Linked DNA regions of Homo sapiens: region 1 is linked to region 2. Evidence: fine-mapped expression QTL. Tissue or cell type: whole blood. Region 2 holds a variant in brackets; the other region holds the start of a gene. Each region is shown on its reference strand, or each on the opposite one. Region 1 holds the start of NLRP3 (NLR family pyrin domain containing 3). Region 2 has its middle 43 kb from the start of DUSP22.

Region 1 (2,813 bases), not on the chromosome of region 2:
ACCTGAAGTTTTTGCTGCTCCTGCCTCAGCTCCAGCCCCGAATGACACCTTTCACCTGGTTCATGGAGACTCAGGTCTGCTGTCATGCCCCTAAGCAGGACTAGATGCCTCTCTCATGTTGTAGAGCATTCTCTCTGCAGTTCTGTAGAAAGGTGGTAGTCATCGGAACCAACTGCTTATTCTAGCTTCTCTGTGCCAGGCTCTGTTTTAAAGGCCTCACGTTTAGCCATTCACTCAGTGTTTTCTGACAGCCTTCTAGGATAGGTACCGTTATTTGGGTTGATGTAGTGCTTGGTCAAATGCAGTATAATGAAGGGATCAAGGAGGGGGCAATTCCAAGCAAAACCACTTGTTCATCCATCCTGAGTCTAGGAGATTTGGAAGATCTAAAGAAGTAGCAGGCAATTATTGTCACCCTTTTACAGGTATGAGGCACAGACAGACCCAGTCATTTGCTGACATCCCTCCACTGAACTGGGTGCTCGTCCTTTTCACTCACCCAGAGGCTGAGCGAGTGCCTCTCACCCACCAAGCTCTGTTGAACTTGTGCCTTTGCCGGTCTGTGGTCCTGCGGCCGTCTCATGAGCTGCAGAGTAGGTCTGTGTGTGTCTCTCCTCAAGCTACTCAAGCTGAGGCTTTGTGTGCATGCCTGCCACATACCAGCCATTCCGTGAGTGTTAGTGGAACAGGTGAGTCAATGAGTCAGGGAGTAAAATTTGTGCTTTAAAAGTAGAACATGTCGGAGAGAACCTGTACTGCCTTCCAGCCATCTTGCTGTGAGAGGACAGGGCATGGACTCTGGAGTTTGAAGGCTGGGTCAGGTCATGCTCTGGATTCTTTACTCACTCGCATGGCATGTCCTTAGTTTCACTTCCCTCACTCTCAGTGGAGCCGTTGCAGCGGGCAGTGTCAGAGGCAACATCCATTTAGCACTGCCGATTTGACCCCCAGCCCCATCTCATACTGGCCTCCCACCCTGCTTCTGTGGGGTGCCTCAGAGGAGAGCAAGGTGAACCCCAGTATGGAACCGAGACACGGTTTTGACAACACTGTTGATCCCATTTGGAAAATCCAGCTATGTGATTAACCATTAGTCTCTCTGCCTCTGCTCTGATGTAAGTGGAGACCACATCCTTCCTGCCCCTTCTGGGGCTGCGACTGCTATAAATTCATTGCATTTCCTCTCTAGCTGTTCCTGAGGCTGGCATCTGGGTAAGTCCAGCTCCGCGGGGCAGTGTGGGCGACAGGACCGGGAGAGCAGTGGGGGAGATTGTGTTCAGAGGGCAGAACTTGTCCTGGTTAATGCACTAGGAATTTCTTCTGGCGTCTCCAAGGTTGTGCTTCAACAACATTTCTGGAATGTTCTTTTATCATTATTTGGGCTCTACGTGTGCAAGTTCGTGTGTGTGTATGTGGCGGGGGGAAGCGGGGAGGACAGCGGCAGCAACCATAGTTTACACCCACGACTTCAGCAGATTTGCCCAGTATCCCTCCCAGGGGAGAAGATGGATGGGATATACAGAAGGAAACAAACCTCCTTAAAGACCAAAGGGCAGCAGATTTTTGTGCTGGTGTTAGGGTGGAAGGAGCACAGAAGAAAGGCAGAATCCTGATGCAGATGGAAGGACTGATGGGGCAGGAGCTGGGAGGGTATGCGGAGCTAATAGGGCTGTCTGGAGAGCAGTCACCTCAGGATGGGCAGGAGCTGGGAGGGTATGCGGAGCTAATAGGGCTGTCTGGAGAGCAGTCACCTCAGGATGCACAGGGCTGGGTTTGCAGGGCTCAGGAGGCGAGGAGTAGATAGGCAGGAATGGAGATGGGACGGGAGAGATGAGTGAGTCTGAGGCATCTTGACATTGAACTGCAGTCACAGAAATTCCAATTTGGAGAGCTCCACCGTTTTCCAGGCTCTCTGCCTCCCTTGAGTGTTATTTATGGCTTTAGGTTGAGGTGCTTTGCCAAATAGAGTATAATCAAGGGATCAAGGAGGGAACAATTCCAAACAAAGCCAACTTGTTCATCCATCCGGACTCTAGGAGATATGGAAGATCTAAAGATACAGCAGGTGATTGCTAGTTTTTGTGGAACTCACAGTCTAGTTGGGAAGACTATGTTGGTGAATGCTGCAGTGATACACCTGTGATAAATGCTGGGGAAGTGTGTCTTTTAGTCATCTATTTTGTTGTCTTTGTCTTTGTCTGACTGAAACAAGTGATGGAAGACATGGTCTCATATCTCTGGTCAAAATCCTGGCTCTGTTCCTTCCTGGTTCTAAACCCCTCGGCAGGCTTCCTAGTCCCCCTAAGACTCAGTTTATGCATCTATAAAATGGGGCTAGGAATAGGTGCACCTCATAGAGCTCTGTGCAGGTTAGATGGGGAAAAACATCAGTGAGTGCCTAGCCTGTGGAAAGCTCTAAATTAATGTGAATTATAATGATAACAATTGCGAATTTTGCAAGGAGACATTAAAGGATGTATGTTTTTATTTATTTTATTTTATTCTATTTTATTTTTTGAGATGGAGTTTTGCTCTTATTGCCCAGGCTGGAGTGCAGTGGTGTGATCTTGGCTCATCGCAACCTCCGCCTCCTGGGTTCAAGCGATTCTCCTGCCTCAGCCTCCCGAGTAGCTGGGATTACAGGTGCCTGGTACCATGCCCGGTTAATTTTTGTATTTTTAGTAGAGACGGGATTTCTCCCTGTTGTTTGGTGAGCCTGGTCTCCAACTCCTGACCTCAGGTGATCCGCCCACCTCGGCCTCCCAAAGTGCTGGGATTACAGGGATGTATGTTTTTATTATTCTCCATTATGC
Region 2 (2,813 bases):
AGGCGGGAGCCACAGCGCCTGGCCAATACTTACTATTATTTGTCTAATTATAGCCATCCTCATGGGTGTGAAGTGATATCTCATTGTGGTTTTGATTTTCACTTCCCTAATGGTGGATAATTTTTGGGCATCTTTTCATATTCTTGTTGGCCATTTATATATCTTTCTTAGAGAAATGTCTGTTCAGATCCTTTGTGCATTTTTTTAAAAAATAGCTTATTTTTCTTTTTATTATTGAGTTGTAGATGTTCTGTACTTATTCTAGAAGCAAGTTACCCTTCTATTCTGAATATATTTGATTTGCAAATATTTTTCCCATTTTGTGGGGTTTTTTTTTTTAACCTGATGGTGTCTTTTGCAGAACAAAAGTTTTTAATTTTGATCAAGTCCAATCAATCTTTTTTTTTCATTTGCCACTTTTGCTTTGTTGTTTTATCTAGGAAGACTTTACCTAACTCAAGGATATTAAAATTTACCTTTAGTACTTCTTCTAAGAGTGTATAGTTTTAGCTCTCACATTAAGGTTTATGACTCATATGGATTTAATTTTTGTGTATGTAAGAAAGGAGTCCAACTTTATTCTTTTGCATGTTGATATTCAGTTTTCCCAGCACCATTTGTTAAAAAGATCTAGAGAGAGGAGGGTAATACTGGACCTACTCATAAAACCACCCGTGCTTGATTTTCTAATTTCTAATTTAAAATTATATCTATGAGTCTAATAATTTCCTAATTTTTAAAAATATTTTAATTTTTAATTTTGTGGGTACATAGTAGGTGTATGTATTTATGCAGTACATGAAACATTTTGATACAGGCATATAATGTATAACAATCACATCAGGGTAAACGGGGTATCCATCTCCTAAAGCATTTGTCATAGCTTTGTGTTACAAACAATCCAATTATAATCTGTTAGGTATTTTAAAATGTACAATAAATTATTGTTGACTGTAGTCACCCTGTTGTGATATCAAATACTAGATCTTATTCATTCTAATATATATATTAGAATATATACATATATTCTAATTCATATATATACATATGTATAAATAGAAAAGAAATATATATATTTCTTTTTTTTTTTTTTTGTAGATGGAGTCTCGCTCTGTCACCCAGGCTGGAGTGCAGTGGCATGATCTTAGCTCACTGCAACCTCCGCCTCCTGGGTTCAAGTGATTCTCTTGCCTCAGCCTCCCAAGTAGCTGGGACTACAGATGCACGCCACCATGCCCGGCTTATTTTTGTATTTTTAGAAGAGACAGGGTTTCAGCATATTGGTCAGGCTGGTTTCGAACTCCTGACCTCAAGTGATCCACCTGCCTCGGCCTCCAAAAGTGCTGGGATTACAGGCATGAGCCACCGCACCCACCCATTCTAACTATATTTGTGTACACTTTAACCATCCTTCTGTCCTCCCCACCCCAGCCCTTACTACCTTCTGGGAACCATTCTTCCCCTCTGTATCTCCATGAATTCAACTGTTTTAATTTTTAGCTTTCACAA[G/A]TGAGTGAGAACATGCAAAGTTTGTCAGTCAGTGCCTGGCTTGTCTCACTTAACATGATGACCTCCAGTCCCATGCATATTACAGCATCTAATTCTTTTCTATGGCTGAATAGTACTTTATTGTGTATATGTACCACATATCCTTTATCCATTCATCTATTGATGGATACTTAGGTTGCTTCCAGATCTTGGCTATTGTGAATAGTGCTGCAATAAACATGGGCATGCAGACATCTCTTCAGTATAGTGATTTTCTTTCTTTTGGGTATATACCCAGCAGTGGGATTGCTGGATTCTAGGGTAGCTCTATTTGTCAAAATTGATTGGCCACAAACATAAGGATTTATTTCTGGACTCTAAATTCTCTTCCATTGATCTACATGTCCGGCTAGTACCACACTGTCTTGCTTACTGTCACTTTGTAGTAAGCTTTAAAATCAGGACGTGTGAGTCTTTCAACTTTGTTTTAATTTTTCAAGATTGTTCTGGTTATTCTTGGTGCCTTGCCTTTCCGTATGAATTGTATAATAAGCTTGTCAGTTTCTGCCGAAAAAAAAAAGCCAGCTGGGATAATGATAGGGATTATATTGAATCTGTAGATCAATTTGGGGAGTACTGCCGTCTTAACAATAAGTATTGAGTATTCCAATCTATGTTCATGAGATGTCTTCCATTAATTTAGATCCTCTGTAATTCTTCCAATGATGTTTTGTACTATAGTTTTCAGTGTAGAAGTCTTGAATTTTTTGGAAAAATCTATCCTTAAAATATTTTATTCTTTTTGATACTATTATAAATGGAACTATTTTCTTACTTTTATTTTCAAATTGTTCATTGCTAGTGTATAGAACCAACCGACTTTTGTATATTGATCTGCTACCCAGCAACCTTAATGAACTAATTTTATATGCCTAATAGTTTATTTTGTGGCATGCTTAGAATTTTTAATATTAGATCATGTCATCTACAAACAGAGATAGTTTTACTTCTTTCTTTCCCATCTGATGTCTTTCACTTTTCTTTCTTGTCTAATTGTCCTGGCTTGATCCTCCATTGCAATGTTGAATAGAAGTGGTGAGAGTGGACTTCCTTAGGGCAAAAACATTCTGTCTTTTACCACATGTGTAATGTTAGGTGTGGTTTGTTTGTAGATTCCCTTGATCAGGTGGAGGAAGTTCCCTTCTATTCTTAGTTTTTGTGTGTTTGTATTATGAAAGATTGTTAAATTTTGTAAAATGCTTTTTTTCCCATCTCTTCAGATGACTATGTGGTTTTGTTGTCATGCTATTAATACAGTGCATTAC

The links.
Region 1: NLRP3 starts here. The variant in region 2 is fine-mapped to the expression of NLRP3 in whole blood (TOPMed, PIP above 0.99).

The regions. Positions count from the first base shown.
Region 1 is chr1:247,414,982-247,417,794 of GRCh38, forward strand. It overlaps NLRP3 (NLR family pyrin domain containing 3), which reads left to right and starts at 1,192. Exons shown (of 10, transcript NM_001243133.2): 1 at 1,192-1,212.
Region 2 is chr6:248,205-251,017 of GRCh38, forward strand. No RefSeq gene overlaps it. Among named protein-coding and RNA genes, the nearest start is that of DUSP22, 43 kb to the right of the region's middle. The variant G/A (reference allele first, on the strand shown) is at 1,510.